Homo sapiens: one gene and its partner. Each later gene encodes a partner of the first gene's protein in a complex. Links are inferred from orthologs where the notes say so. Each region holds a gene or a part of one and is shown on either strand. Other genes may lie near its edges.

Region 1 (7,483 bases):
GTAATTTTTCACTGTTTATAAATGTTTTCAAATGTTCATTAGACTATATTTTCAGAGATTTGATGATTCTTTTATCAATATGGTCAGAATTATAGCTGGTATTAGTAACACAAATCACTTAAGATGGTAAAGCCTGTAAATATTAAAATGGAAGTTATGGTAAAAACATGATGAATTAATTTATGGCATGTAAACCCTGGATGCCTTTGGGAAATCTGGAAGTGATTTTAATTGGGAAAGAAGCTTCTTTGGAGTTTTCCCATCAGTCAGTATGCTTTTTGGACATAGAATTTAAGGAGTCTAATTGGTAGGATTTCCTACGCAAACTATTTTGCATAGTTAGAATAACATTTATAATGGAGCATCAGATGTGTTATACAAGCTAGAATATTTAGAAATAGATTGAATAGTCCACATGACAAACAATTGTAAGCAAGGAATAGAAATGATACTTACTACAGTAGATTTAGGATGTTTAAAATGTGGTTTTCTATAAACTGGTTCTAATTAAGGACAGAATACTCTGGCAAAAGAGAAAGCAATTCTAACAACACAGGTGGCAATAAAGAGAAGTGAATCGATATTAGGTAAATATAAAGTGAATATAAATATATACTGATATTATAACAGAAATAAGGATAATAGAATGCGTAGGAGTAAAGATTAAGGCACTATATGATGCCACAAATACATTTTATACTAAAGAAAGGCATAATTTTGGATTCTGCCTCTTAATTTCTCAGGGTCTTTGAAGGATTAAGTGAAATGTAAAATCCTAGACGAATCGTTCCTTTTCCTTTGTATTATAACAGATGAATTAAATACTGCTAAATGCCTTATGGTTCTGTAGAGAAATATACAAATTATCAATGATATTGCTTTATCTATTAAATATTTTCCACCTGATGATAATAAATGCTAAGGCTTGTTTATAAAGGCCAATAGCAAAGATATACAGTAGAAACACATTACTTGAATTTACACTGATTTTATTTAGTTCCTGAAAGGAATATACTATCTATGAAATATAGAAGTTTAAAATTTAAAGGACAGTATATATGAAGTAATTCATAATATAGTTGGTAAAAATTGTTTGATAGAATATTTATTATTTTGAAATAATTGATTGCAGGTTCTTCATTGTTTGATACATGTATTGTTAGAATGAAATCTTGCCTTGTTTCTCGCATAGTGTTAACATACTGTAAGGTACTATACCTTAAAGGGTATTCTTGAAAACCTAAGTCTTTGTAACAGTGACAGTAGTCATCCCAATTTCCGATTATAACCACTGTTCCATTTTTATAGTGGTTATAATCTTAAATCCAGTACAAATCGACATCTACAGTATGATTCACATATTTCTGGCAAATTTGATAATCTCTAGAACAATGTGATTGCTGGATTTAACATTGAATTCAATTTTCCTAAGGTATGATTTTTAAAAAGTACTTAGATGGCTTGCTAGTGACTAATTATTAATAGCCTTTCTCTTGGAACTGAATTCCATAATAGGAAGTAAATATTCTTATTTATCTGTAAGATAAAATATAATCCCCTGTTATAAAGACTCATTGTATTCACTTTATACTCTACTTACTTTCAAAAATTCATGTTAATTCCTTAAGATAGGAATGAAATATTCCTTTTTTTAACTTCTATCCTAAAATACTCAGTTTAACATTAAATGTATTATGGGAAATCTTTAATGCATTAAGCTTTCATGTAGGCTTATTAACTTGATGAAGTTGTGGTATCAATATTGTAAAATCATAGTACCTAAGAAATGGAAGATGGTTTTAGAATCATTCACCCTCTTAAGAACAAGGAAGGTGTCTTAATCATTTCTGCATTCCTAATTTATAAGATAGTGTGTGGCATTTATTTCTTAACCTAATATATGTTTGTTAAAGTAATATATAAGTTAACATGTAAAATCTATGCCTCTCAATTTAAAGCACAAACTCCTAAGGATTTAATGGTTATATAGTTCGAAATAACTGGCTAATTACAAAAGTATGACTAAGAACTGTAGATTCCTTAAATCTAGTGTTCTCTTCATGATAGACTACTATCATGCTAGAGTTTTTTTAGTCAAATGTATAAAAGTAATGACAAAAGTGAAATGAATGATGCACAGTGCACACACACATATACACAGAAACATAGGGTGTTGGGTACTATAAATTTTTTTGAATGTTTTGTTTTGATTGTAAATTTTAAACTGTAGGAATCTATGGTTTTATGTAACAATTGTAATATAAAAGATTTGTAATTAAGTCCTAAGTGTTTCATATATAAATGTAAATGCTAAAAAATATCACATCCACTTTCTTAATTATAAAACATTTAAGGGATAGACTAATTTTTTCACTTTCTACAGTACTTATTCCTTTATAGTTCCAGGTTAGAGTTTATCCTGGCTTTGTACTTACATGAGATTTGAAAGGTAGAGGATATACAGAAGCCATTATTGTCAAGCATTAGTTGTTGGCTAGCAGATGGGCAGATATAAAAGTCTTAGTGGCTCCTGGGCAAACTCCTGTTAATTGGCCACCCTGATGCTGTAGGTGGTACAGGTAATTGCTGGCAGATTTCCATAGACTCCTGACATTCACAGCAGCTTTCTAGTGTCCATTTTGAGAACCCTTGTCTTTGCATCTTCAGGCTAAGATCATCAGCATTAACTTTCTTGGCCTTTATTCCTGTCGCCCATTCAACTGTTATGTAGCTTCTGGTTCCTGAATTAAAACCCTTCCTACCTGGAAAACCTAGACTAACTTCTGTTTTCGTTAGTGAACCTAATTGGTAGATTGGCAGACTGTGTTCCAAATATGAGGGGAAAAGGGATTCTGTGACCCGGGGGAGATATTAGAGAAGAGTGCTGATTTTGCCAGGTTGGGTCATTCTACTGTATCCTTTATCTGCTCTTGCTTTTGGGCTAAGAAACCATTGACTAAGAAATTCACAACTGAACTGTTGAATCTTAGTCATCTTTAACTTCAGCTGACTTCACTCTTTCATTGTCTCCTGTTCATGTCCTGGCAAAATCCCCATAATAGTTTTCTAAACCTTTTCTGTTATCTTCAGGATTCTAATCCTATTGCTTTTCATGATTAATAGTTGATATTATCTAAGTTTATTCCAGAGAAAAGGTTAGTGTGAATATTTTGTTAACAGGGTATCATGTCTTATTGCAAGGTTCACTAGGTTTTACCAGTGTTAGAAGGGTAAGTTGAGAAGGTAATAAGCAGTTTCTTCCTCTGAGACTATAAGGAAATATGAGGGGTCAGATGTGGAGACTTAGTAGAATAATATCACCAAGCTGTTCTTAATCTAAATGAAGATGGAATAAAAATAGCAGTTTTTTCTGATTTCTAGGATTTTTGTAATGAATAAATCATTATTATTTGTCTATTTTTATTGCTTATCTCAAGTTAGATCAATAAAAAAGGGTTGGAGACATGATGATAAAATGAAAATTTAGGTGAACCAATACTAGGAATGATCTAGAAGATGATGAATGAAAAATGATTTTTAAGAGCCAGCACTTAATTTTAGTCAGAAAGTATTCAACTCTTGAGCCAAATCAGTTTGGCTTCATTACATTTTCAGGTAACTTTCATATCAGCATGTTAGGTATAGAGAAGATGGAGGAAATATTTTTCTAAGCTGCTGAATAATAGTTGGTGGGTAGTGGAAGTGTACGTAGCAAACCAAGCAAGGAAATTAGAATAAATGCTAGTTTATAGCAGTGGAATATCATATTATCTAATTTTCAAGCATAAGCATATTCCAGATATAGTGTTGCAGGCACTTAATAACCACAACAAAGTACTTATTTGAACTGAATATAATGAATACTACTAAAACCATTGTTACGCTATGCCTTTAAAATGAAATTTTAAAAAGGCAAAAGGACTACTTAGTTATCCATCAACCTGCCAGCAAATCAATGAAATGTAAAATTGATAAACTTTTGCTCTTCTCATTGTTCTTTTCCTTTGGTTACTTAGGAAAAGAAGCCCATCTGTGTCCAGAGATCAGAATAGAAGATACGACCAAAGGGAAGAAAGAGAGGAATATTCACAGTATGCTACTTCGGATACCGCAATGCCTAGATCTCCATCAGATTATGCTGATAGGCGATCTCAACATGAACCTCAGTTTTATGAAGACTCTGATCATTTAAGTTATAGGGACTCCAACAGGAGAAGTCATAGGCATTCCAAAGAATATATTGTAGATGATGAGGATGTGGAAAGCAGAGATGAATACGAAAGGCAAAGGAGAGAGGAAGAGTACCAGTCACGCTACCGAAGTGATCCGAATTTGGCCCGTTATCCAGTAAAGCCACAACCCTATGAAGAACAAATGCGGATCCATGCTGAAGTGTCCCGAGCACGGCATGAGAGAAGGCATAGTGATGTTTCTTTGGCAAATGCTGATCTGGAAGATTCCAGGATTTCTATGCTAAGGATGGATCGACCATCAAGGCAAAGATCTATATCAGAACGTAGAGCTGCCATGGAAAATCAGCGATCTTATTCAATGGAAAGAACTCGAGAGGCTCAGGGACCAAGTTCTTATGCACAAAGGACCACAAACCATAGTCCTCCTACCCCCAGGAGGAGTCCACTACCCATAGATAGACCAGACTTGAGGCGTACTGACTCACTACGGAAACAGCACCACTTAGATCCTAGCTCTGCTGTAAGAAAAACAAAACGGGAAAAAATGGAAACAATGTTAAGGAATGATTCTCTCAGTTCAGACCAGTCAGAGTCAGTGAGACCTCCACCACCAAAGCCTCATAAATCAAAGAAAGGCGGTAAAATGCGCCAGATTTCGTTGAGCAGTTCAGAGGAGGAATTGGCTTCCACGCCTGAATATACAAGTTGTGATGATGTTGAGATTGAAAGTGAGAGTGTAAGTGAAAAAGGTAAGCTTTCTAATCATACATTTTGCTGTAATTGATTAGATAAGCGTTTTTTTTAATAGATTGCATTTCTGAGTGAAAATTTAATAGGTATTACTAGTAGCTTTATTTTAAAAGTCTTTTAATGGCATCGAACGTGTGAAGAAAATTTCGTGTTATAAAAAGTATCTTCTGTTGTTCATGTATAAGAACGACAGAATGATGTTCTATTGATTTTTAAAAATTGCCTTCTTGCTTTGTTTCTGAAAGTTTTCTTGTATCATTTGACAGCATATTTCAAAAATATCCATTAACTGTAGTTTTTAAAATAACATTTATTTTTTGTCTCCTTATAAAAGTAACAATATATTCACTATAAAACATCTGAAAAAGTCCTCAAAGCATAAAGAATGAAATGCAAGTTATCCATATTTCTTCCCCCAGATATAACCATTGTTAACCTTTTATTGTATTTTCTTTCTTTTTTTTCCTATGCATGTATGGTTTATAGATTTATAAAATTGATATCATGCTATATATAATTTTGTATACTGATGCTTTCAATTGTTATCACATCATAAATGATTTTTTTCAAGCCATTAGATGTTCTTTAGTAATACGTTTTAAATAGCTACACTAATATTCTATCATAAGATTATACCACAACTAAATATTTCTTTATTTGGGGCATTGCTGTGGCTTCCATTTGCCAATGTAAAAATTATAATGGTTATCTTTATACATACTTTTTGCCTACATCTCTTGAGTATTTCAAAAATATATATTTGTACTTTGGATTATTTTAAGCTTTAATTCAGATTACCAAATTGCTTTCCAAAAAGGTTGTAACATGCTTTACTCTTATCAGATGTACTTGAGTTTTCAGTCTCAATTCACCAAATCTTTGCCAATTGAATAGCCACAAAAATGCTCTCTTTGTCATTTTAATTTGAATTTGATTGTAAAGTTGAATGTTTTATATGTTTATCTGCATTTGATATCTTCTGTGAATTATCTGTTCATTCCTTTAATTCCTTCTGCCCATCTTTCTCTGGGTATTAGTTTTTCTATTATTGATTTATAAGCACTTTTTATATAGTTAGGATTTTACCCCATTTAACTATTATTTGCCAAATACATTTCTCATTTTAATGTTTATCTAGTATTTTAATTTGTTTATTTGAAACTGTTGAATTTAATGTATCTAAACCTTTGTATTTGGTGATTTTTTTCCATTATTTTCATCTTTAAAAGCTCTTTATTCGCTTCCAAATCAATTAAGTATTTAACTGTATATTATCTCATTTTTAAATTATTTTTAACCATTAACTTTTTTAACATTCTGGAATTTATTTTGGTGTATGACAAAAATATACCAGATGGATGAGTATCATACCAACCTCCTACCCCCAATTTCCTTATACTATTTGATGAATAGTCCATTTTTTGTTTATCGAATCAACAGGAATCACTAAGGGAATTCAAGAAAGGAGCTAGGTATGAAATGATTATGGAATCATTTTATACTGTACCAAAATAATTAGTTAGAACACATTAATTGTTTCCATTCTGAATTAAAAATAAAAAATGTGATATAAAAATAACTAACAAGAAATGAGGGGCCCACAGGAAGAGCCATAAAATTTTACTGAGTAACATAAGGAAGATGTGAGTAGCGGTTCATTTCATGTTCCTAATTAGGAAGGCTAAGTAGTATAAAGATGCAAGCTCTTTGCAGATAATCTCTTGGAGTTAATAACATTCTAGACATAATACCAGTTGGACCCTTGAAGTATTTTATTTCTAAAGTTAGTCTGGAAGAAACAACACTTGTAAGAATAATTAAGAGTAGTGAGGGAGAACTCACTTGACCAGATAGTATAAAATGACAATAATTGAAAATGTGATACTGATAGAAAATTTGGACATATCGGTGAAATTCTAATATAATATATTAAAACTAATAAATGATAAAATATAAAATGCACAACAATCCAAGTGGGGAGAGATAAACTATTCAACAAATAGGGTTGGGGAAATGCATATGAAGTTTTAAAAAATCACATTAGGGATATTTCATATTTGTTGCATTCAAATGATAAATACTAAGAAAAACTTGCTTATTAAAATATAGTTATCTATAAAGAGCAACTATCGATCTTAATTATTTTTTTTATGGAGTATATAGAGATTTTATTTTCCCTAAGCTGTAGTACTTCCTTAAGTATATTTAATAATCTTTAGTTTGGTCATTTTTCACATTTGCCAGAGTATATCATGATACTAAAAAATAAGAAAAAAGATAGTTTTGTTATCTTTGGTGGTTTGGTTTAGATTCTATCTGGTAGGTATTTCTATTATCCTTTGCTAAAGTAATGCCTTCACTTGTACCACATAAAAATGTAAAAAACTCAGAAATGTATCAATTCAGTGCTTGAAAGCTTTTTTATATGTGATATCTTTATTTTAGTATTCTGAAGTATCCACTTATAAAAGTCTCATATAAGTAAAAAGGTATATATGAGTTAAATTAAAATCCTATTTGAAACAAATTAGCAAAACTAA
Region 2 (8,012 bases), on another chromosome or scaffold:
AGACTCCATCTCAAAATGTACCCTGTAACAATATATAAGATGTCAACATTAGTAGAAGCACTCAAGCCTAGATGATAGAGAGAGATTCAGTCTCAAAAAAAAAAAAAAAAAAAAAAAGAGAAAGAAATGGATAAAAGACTTGAACAGGCATTTCACCATAAAAAGAAACCAGTAATCACATAAAAAGTTCAACGTCAAGAGCAATCAGAAAGCAAACCAAAACCCAAATGAGGCACTCCTTCCCTCCCTCCACATAGGCCCAGTGAAAAAACTTGGACAATTCAAAGTGTTGGCAAGAACTTAGAGCCAGGCACGGTACCTCATGCCTGGAATTCCAGCACTTTGGCAGGCCGAGGCAGGAGGATCACTGGAGCTCAGGAGTTTGAGAACAGCTTGGGCAACATAGGGAGACCCCATCTAAAAAAAATAAAATGAGCCAGGCATGGTAGCACAGGCTTGTAGTCCCAGCTCCTTGGGAAGCTGAGACAGGAGGATCGCTTGAGCCCAGGAGGTGGAGACTGCAGTGAGCTGTGATTGCACCATTGCACTCCAGCCTGGGCCTCAGAGTGAGACTATCTCAAGAAAAAACAAAAACCAATAACAAAACAAAAACAAAACATAGAGGAACCGATGATTATACTGTGTTGGTATGATGAAAATCGCCAGACTCCCAATAAAAAACATGACATTATCAGGTGAAGCTGAGCATATATGTATTTTCTTTTCTTTCTTTCCCTCCTTTTTTTTTTTTTTTTTTGAGACAGAGTCTTGCTCTGTTTCCAGGCTAGAGTGCAGTGGCGTGATATCGGCTCACTGCAACTTCCGCCTCCTGGATTCAAGCAATTCTCCTGCCTCAGCCTCCTGAGTAGCTGGGACTACAGGGGTGTGCCATAATGCCTGGCTATTTTTGTGTGTGTTTTTAGTAGAGACAGGGTTTCACCATGTTGGCCAGGATGGTCTCGATCTCTTGACCTCATGATCTGCCCATCTCAGCCTCCCAAAATGCTGGGATTACAGGCATGAACCACCATGTCTGGCCACATATATGTATTTTCTGACCCAGCCATCCTTACTCATGTGTGCCAGCACACAAGTCTGAAGTCTGAGGATGGTCATAAAAACTTTTTTTTGTAATAAACCTGAGCTTGAAACAACCCAAAAGTCCATGACCTGGAGAACAGATGAATAGCCAATAGAAGATTCATACAAAGGAATACTATGCAGCAGTAAAAAATGCAAGCCTTACAGCCACATGCAGCGATATGGATGAATATCAGCAGAATCACATTGAGCAAACAAAACAGATTAGCAGTCCAGGTGCTGTGGCTCACACCTGTAATCCCAGCACTTTGGGAGGCTGAGGTGGGTGGATCACCTGAGGTCAGGAGTTTGAGACCAGCCTGGCCAACATGGTGAAACCCTGTCTCTACTAAAAATACAAAAATTATCACTGCAACCTCCATGGCCAGGCATAGTGGCTCATGCCTGTAATCCCAGCATTTTGGGAGGCCGAGATGGGCAGATCACCTGAGGTCAGGAGTTCGAGACCAGCCTGACCAACATGGAGAAACCCCGTCTCTACTAAAAATTACAAAAAAATTAGCTGGGCATGGTGGCACATGCCTGTAATCCCAGCTACTCAGGAGGCTGAGGCAGGAGAATTGCTTGAACCTGGGAGGCGGAGGTTGCGGTGAGCTGAGATCGTGCCATTGCACTCCAGCTTGGGCAACAAGAGCAAAACTCTGTCTCAAAAAAAAAAAAAAAAAAAAAAAAAAAAAAAAAGCCAGGCAAGGTGATGGGCGCCTGTAATCCCAGCTACTCGGGAGGCTGAGGTAGGAGAATCGCTTGAACCTGGGAGGCAGAGATTGCAGTGAGCGGAGATTGTGCCACTGCACTCCAGCCTGGGTGACAGAGTGCAGCTCTGTTTCAAAAAACAAACAAACAAACAGATTAGTAAAGAATGTGAACAAAGTCAAATGAGGTGGCTCATGCCTGTAATTTCAGCACTTTGGGAGTCCAAGGCAGGCAGATTGTTTGAACCCCAGAGTTCAAGACAAGCCTGGGCAACATAGTGAGACCCTCATCTCTAATTAGCCAGGCATGGAGGTGCATGCCTGTTGTTCCAGGTACTTGGGAGGCTGAGACAGGAGGATTGTCTGAGCTCAGGAGCTCACACCACTGTACTACAGCCTGGGTGACACAATGAGACCTTGTCTCAAAAAAATAGAAACATGCAAGAGGTAACCATGTATTGTTTGCTAAGGAGCATGTGGTAAACTATAAGGAAAAGGAAGAAAATGAAAAACAAAATTTGTGATAGTTCTTCCATCTGCAGGGAAGGATTATGAGATTGGGGAGAGGCACATGGGGGTCTTTTATTGTGATGGTATTTTTTTTTTTTTTTGAGACGGAGTCTCTCTCTGTCACCCAGGCTGGAGTACAGTGGCCCGATCTCGGCTCACTGCAAGCTCCGCCTCCCGGATTCACGCCTTTCTCCTGCCTCAGCCTCCTGAGTAGCTGGGAATACAGGCGCCCGCCACCACGCCCGGCTAATTTTTTGTATTTTTAGTAGAGACGGGTTTTACCGTGTTAGCCAGGATGGTCTCGATCTCCTGACCTTGTGATCACCCCGCCTCAGCCTCCCAAAGTGCTGGTATTATAGGCGTGAGCCACCGAGCCCGGTCGATGGTAATTTTTTTTATCCAAGCCTGCTCCTCATAGTTTATCTACTCATTGATGTTTAATAAAACATCAATGTTTTATTGATTATCAATGTTTAATAAAACATCTACTCATTGATGTTTAATAAAAATTTAAGACCAGGCATGGTGGCTCATGAGCCTGTAATCCCAACATTTTGGGAGGCTGAGACGGGAGGATCACTTGAGCCCAGGAGTTTGAGACAGCCTGTGCGACATGGTGAAACTCTGTCTCTACAAAAAATACAAAAATTAGCTGTGCTGATTTTTTTAAAAATTTAAAGCAGTGACAGATACAAACATGGTTACTATTAGGCATTAAGATTACAACTGGGGCCAGGCGCGGTGGCTCATTCGTGTAATCCCAGCATTTTGGGAGGCCACGGTGGGTGGATCACTTGAGGTCAGGAGTTTGAGACCAGCCTGGCCAACATGGTGAAACCCCATCTCTACAAAAAATACAAAAAAATTAGCTGGATGTGGTGGCGAGCGCCTGTAATCCCAGCTACTCAGGAGGCTGAGGCAGGAAGATCACTTGGAGGTTGAGGTTGCAGTGAACTGAGATGGTGCCACTGCACTCCAGCCTGGGCCACAGATTGAGACTACACCTCCAAAAAAAAAAAAATTACAACTGGTTTCACATGTTAACTCATGTAATACCTCCAGCAACCTTGTGAGGCAGGACTTGTTATCATATTCATTCTACAGGTGCGGAAACTGAGGCACGAGGAGGTCACAAGACCTGCCCAAGGCCATGCTTGTGATGAGAGACAGAGTTTGGTTTTGAACAATGGCCTCACTCAACTCCATGCACATTCTGCATTTATGAAGCTCTTTCATGTGGGCTGGGGGCAGGAGACCCTGTGGGGCTCAGCCTTTCATGCTAGTTTAGGTGCCAGTGATACAGCGAGCAGGTTGCAGGGCAAGGGGCCCACATGGAGCTGCCCAGTTTGATATGTGGGGAGGGGGCCAGGCGCAGTGGCTCAGGTCTGAATCCCAGCACTTTGGGAGGCCGAGATGGGCGGATCCCCTGAGGTCAAGTGTTCAAGACCAGGCTGGCCAACATGGTGAAACCTCGTCTCTACTAAAAATAAAAAAAATAAAATAAAAAAAAAAAGCTGGGCATGGTGGCATGCGCCTGTAGTCCCAGCTACTCGGGGAGGCTGAGGCAGGAGAATCTCTTGATCCCAGGAGGCAGAGGTTGCAGTGAGCCAAGATTGCGTCACTGCATTCCAGCCTGGGCTGCAGAGGGAGACTCCATCTAAAAAAAAGAAAAGTGGGGAGGAGTGGCAGAGTTTCGTTCGGGTCAGGGCCCAATCAGAGGAAGGGATAGGGGCTGGGGGAGTCCAGAGAGGAGAAACAAAGGCTCAGCTTGGGGCAGTCAGGGAAGCCTTCCTGGAGGAGAGGATATTCAGACAAGACATTGATGGATGAAAAGGAGTTCAGAGTGTGGGCAAGGACCCATGGGCTGGATGGCTTAGAGACATAGAGAGAGACCTAGACAGGATGCAGTAGAGCTGCAAAAAGACTTTACAGAGAGAGGCTAAGAGACACATGACTGAGAGAGCAGTGGACAGAGTCAGAGGAACAGAGACCCAGGGAGAGAAAGAGACCAGGCAGTAGAGTTAGAGAGACAGAGACGTAGAGACAGAGGAAGAGAGATACTCAGAGAACAGGACCATCTGCCCGGTGCTGGTGCCGGGCGTACACACAAGAGCTTGCATTTGCCTGTACTTGCTTGAGTATTGCAGGGAGGCGTTTGCCCAGGTTACCAGGGCAGGAATGTCCATGCATGGGTGGCGGGGGCACGTGCACCATTTCAGTGCAGGTGAGGGTCTGCACAGGAGGAAACCTGCTTGGGGGCCGCCGTCGCCCCTTGTCCCCCTGCAACGAGGAGGTGTGGGGCGAGGCGCCCCTTCCCGGAGCCAGGCCCTTTAACGCCCCCCCAGCCCGCAGCGCCCCCGCCCCATCAGGCGTCCCTGGGCTCCGCCTGCCCGCCCCGCATCAGCGCCACGTCAGGCGCTGTCCGCGCCCCCGGTGCTGAACCAAGATGGCCGGTGGCGGCCGGGCCCCGGCGTGAGCCAAGCGCGGGCTGCAGCCGGGAGATGCCCCAGCCCAGCGGCCGCTGAGCCCGACCCGACAGAGCCGGCCCGGCCGCCTCCGGCCCACCTGCGAGCTCGGAGACATGTCTCTGCTTTGCGTTGGAGGTAGGAGGCGAGGCTGGGGGTCGGGGGACCCGTGTGGACGCGGGCTGGGGTCGGGGTCCGCGTGGATGCGGCTCCCAGGGGGTTCCTGGGGGGTGACCCGAGTCCAGGTGGCTGGACTTTTGAGAGGGGTAGCCCTTGTCGACGCAGCTGGGCCCCGGAGGGGGTGATCCGTGTAGACGCGGCAGGGCTCTCGGGGGTCCTGGTGGCCGCTGCTGGAGGGGTCGTGTGGACGCGGCTGAACGCGGAGGCCCGTGTGGACGTGGACGGGTATCCGGGGTTCTACCCGGAAACGATCTAGACTGGGGCGTCTGTGTAGACCAGGTTTTTAGAGGGTCAGTGAGGAAGAGTCTGGGCTCGGTAGTTTGATTGAAGCCTGCAGGGGTGCTTGGAAGGGGTCTGGTGTTGTGGGCTGGGTTACGGGTCCTCATGGACGCGGACCCGGCTGGAAATTCGAAGGAGAGTGCGGTGGGAGGGTTCTCCAAGCCGTGGGGATGTAAGATATAGGTAGAGGGGCTTGGCCATCAGGGCATCCACGAGTTCTAGGACTCTCCCAGCCCTAGGTGTAAAGAGGACTGGAGTGGGGGGAGTGTGGAGACAGGAGACCCCTCCCAGCGTCCAGAGAGGGCTGTGACTGGAGGTCTGGGGGCGCTTTTCCAGTTAACTCTTTGGCCTCCCGAGTGAGGGGGTTGGAGGAATGTCCAGAAGGTCTTCCCGCTCCCTGCCCCCTCCGGTTCTCCCAAACACGTTTCAGGGCCTTCTCGGCAGGGAGCCTACTTCTTGGAAGAGCAATGTCTCCTGGTCCCCCTCCTGGCCCATCCTCACCTCACCCACTTTGCACTGGAGAGAGGGAGGGAGGGAGACGTGAGGTGGGGGGGGAGCTATTTTGGGGCCAGAACGCCATCTGCACAGAGGCCCACGCCCAGGCCCACGCTCTGCGTTGGGGTTGGAGGAGGGAGGGAGACGTGGGAGGGGCATGACCCCCCACCCCACACCTTTATGGCTCTGGGGTCGTGGGGAAGCCAGCCCAACCGAACCCAGGCGTTCTGGGCACTCCCGTTTGAGAAATCAAACTCTGGGAGACCTTGGGCGGCAGGGGTGGATGTGGACCGCCGTTCCACGCCTACAGAGCTCTGAACCCCTGGTTCTTAAGGACTGGGGTCCCCCCGTCACTCCCACCCATTTCAAGAAGGCTGGGGTGGGGGAAGGGGTGTGTCTGCCAAGCCTGAGACTGCAGGCTTCGGGAGACCTCGGGCGACAGGAAGCGTGCGTGTGCTGAACTCCTGCTGCCTGGACACAGGGTGGGCAGGCCGGGGAGCCGGGAACCGCCCCCGCCGCCCCTCCTCCTCCCTCCCCTCCCCCTCGGCCGATTCATTCACAAACCCTGCCCCGCCCGCCCGCTCCCCGCCGCGGCAGCTTCCGAGTGCAAATCCGGCCGGGCTGGGCCGGCGTGGACGCGGGTGTTCTTAAAGGGACAGGGGCCTACTTTCTCTAAGCTCGTTTCTGCTGGACGGGGCTGGGGGTGGTGGAAGAAGGGTCCCTAGAGTCAAAGGTCAACTCCTCCATCCCCTAGCCTCCAGGCCTATGGAGTTAGGGGAGTAGGGAAGTGAAGGAGACCCCTAGGCGACCCCCACCGCCTAGGCCTGAGGACGGAATGGGAGGAGAACTTGAATGTCCAGACCCCCTACTGACCTCTCCCCCTGCTCTAAGTAGCCGGGCTCTTAAAGGTGGCACTGGAGGAGGTTCCGACGTGGGTGTTCTTGGCTGACTCCTCTATCCTCTCTCTTCTCCCCCCAGCATCCCGCCCCACCCCGCCTCACATCCTCCAAGTTGGGCTTCTCTGGAAGGTTTGCCTAGTGGAGTGGGGGGGGGGGGGGGGGGGCGGGGATCTCACCCTTAACTCTGACGCAAACAGGAGGCTCGGCTGCGGGGGTGGCATTAAGGGGGGGCAGCAGGAGGCAAGAGGGATGAGGCTTCCAGAAACAGAGACGTTGGGGGAGGACTGTGCTGGATTCTGTGGACTTTACAGGGAGGGGCCCGGCTGAGTGGAGAGGAATCGCTGGGAGGGGCAAGGCTGGGGAAGAGGTTGACAGGGGTGGGAGGTAAGGCCCTCAGGTGTAAAGGGAGGTGTGAGGTTGGAGTGAGGAGGAGTAGGAGGCAGGGAGGGGTGGGGAGAGGGAGAAGTGCTGGGTGAGGCCAGTCTCCCAGGGAGAGGTGGGATGGTGCCCAGAGAGGGGAGGGGCTGGGATGGCTGAGCACGAGAGATGTTGGGGTGGGCTTGGCAGGAGTGAAGCTAGGCTGAGATGGGTTGCCGTGTTGCCTGAGCTCAGCTGAGGAAATACCTGTCCCCCCTCCCCTCCACCGGGGACCCACAGGCGTTTGCCAATCCCTACACACATTCATACCCAGACTTGTTCCTGTGTGGACACAAATGCTTAGGATGTATGAAGGCTCTACGCAGACCATGTGCCTGGGAAGGCACATTCCGTAGGCACACGTGTGTACTCAAATGCCTGTGTGAACACAAGCATACACGTGTATATAGGACACAGTCTGCCGCTACAGATATAGTCCCAGCAACACACGTGTGAGTGTGTGTGTCTGCCAGCACGCATATAGATGTATCCACGTGTCTGATGAATGCTCACAATATACATGTCACATAAAGATCCACCCATGTCCAGCCGAGCGCGGTGGCTCAGGCCTGTAATCTCATCACTTTGACTTTGGGAGGCCAAGGTGGGCAGATCACTTGAGGTCAGGAGTTCAAGACCAGCCTGGCCAACATGGTGAAACTTTGTCACTGCTAAAAAATAAAAAAAATTAGCCAGGTGTGGTGGCGCGCACCTGTAGTCTCAGCTACTCGGGAGGCTGAGGAAGGAGAATCACTTGAATAGGGGAGGTGGAGGTTGCAGTGAGCTGAGATCCTGCCACTGTACTCCAGCCTGGGCAACACAGTGAGACTCTGTCTCAAAAAAAAAGATTCACTCATGTCCTAACACTCAGACATGTACCCATACATATCTGTTAAGGTCCCCAACCCCATGAAGCACATATATATTCATATAAGCACATGTCAAAGCCATGTGTGTATGCACATGACAACACT

What was found.
Region 2: the proteins of RIMS2 (region 1) and UNC13A are in contact, whole or in part, in a crystal structure (PDB 2CJS), measured with the Rattus norvegicus proteins. The link is inferred for Homo sapiens from one-to-one orthologs. Residues at the interface, in XP_063118965.1 of Rattus norvegicus: Asp102, Gly103, Cys104, Ser109, Gln112, Val123, Leu125, Ser127, Asn128, Lys129, Val134, Met135, Trp136; in NP_074052.2 of Rattus norvegicus: Tyr23, Ile36, Trp65, Leu69, Ile70, Trp71, Asp72, Thr73, Met74.

Annotation. Positions count from the first base shown.
Region 1 is NC_000008.11:103,881,282-103,888,764, forward strand, and holds part of RIMS2 (regulating synaptic membrane exocytosis protein 2), read left to right. Parts: intron 1-4,016; coding exon 4,017-4,942; intron 4,943-7,483. UniProt on the Homo sapiens protein: Rab effector involved in exocytosis. May act as scaffold protein. Plays a role in dendrite formation by melanocytes.
Region 2 is NC_000019.10:17,685,072-17,693,083, reverse strand, and holds the start of UNC13A (protein unc-13 homolog A), read left to right. Parts: upstream 1-4,729; 5' UTR 4,730-4,884; coding exon 4,885-4,906; intron 4,907-8,012. UniProt on the Homo sapiens protein: Plays a role in vesicle maturation during exocytosis as a target of the diacylglycerol second messenger pathway.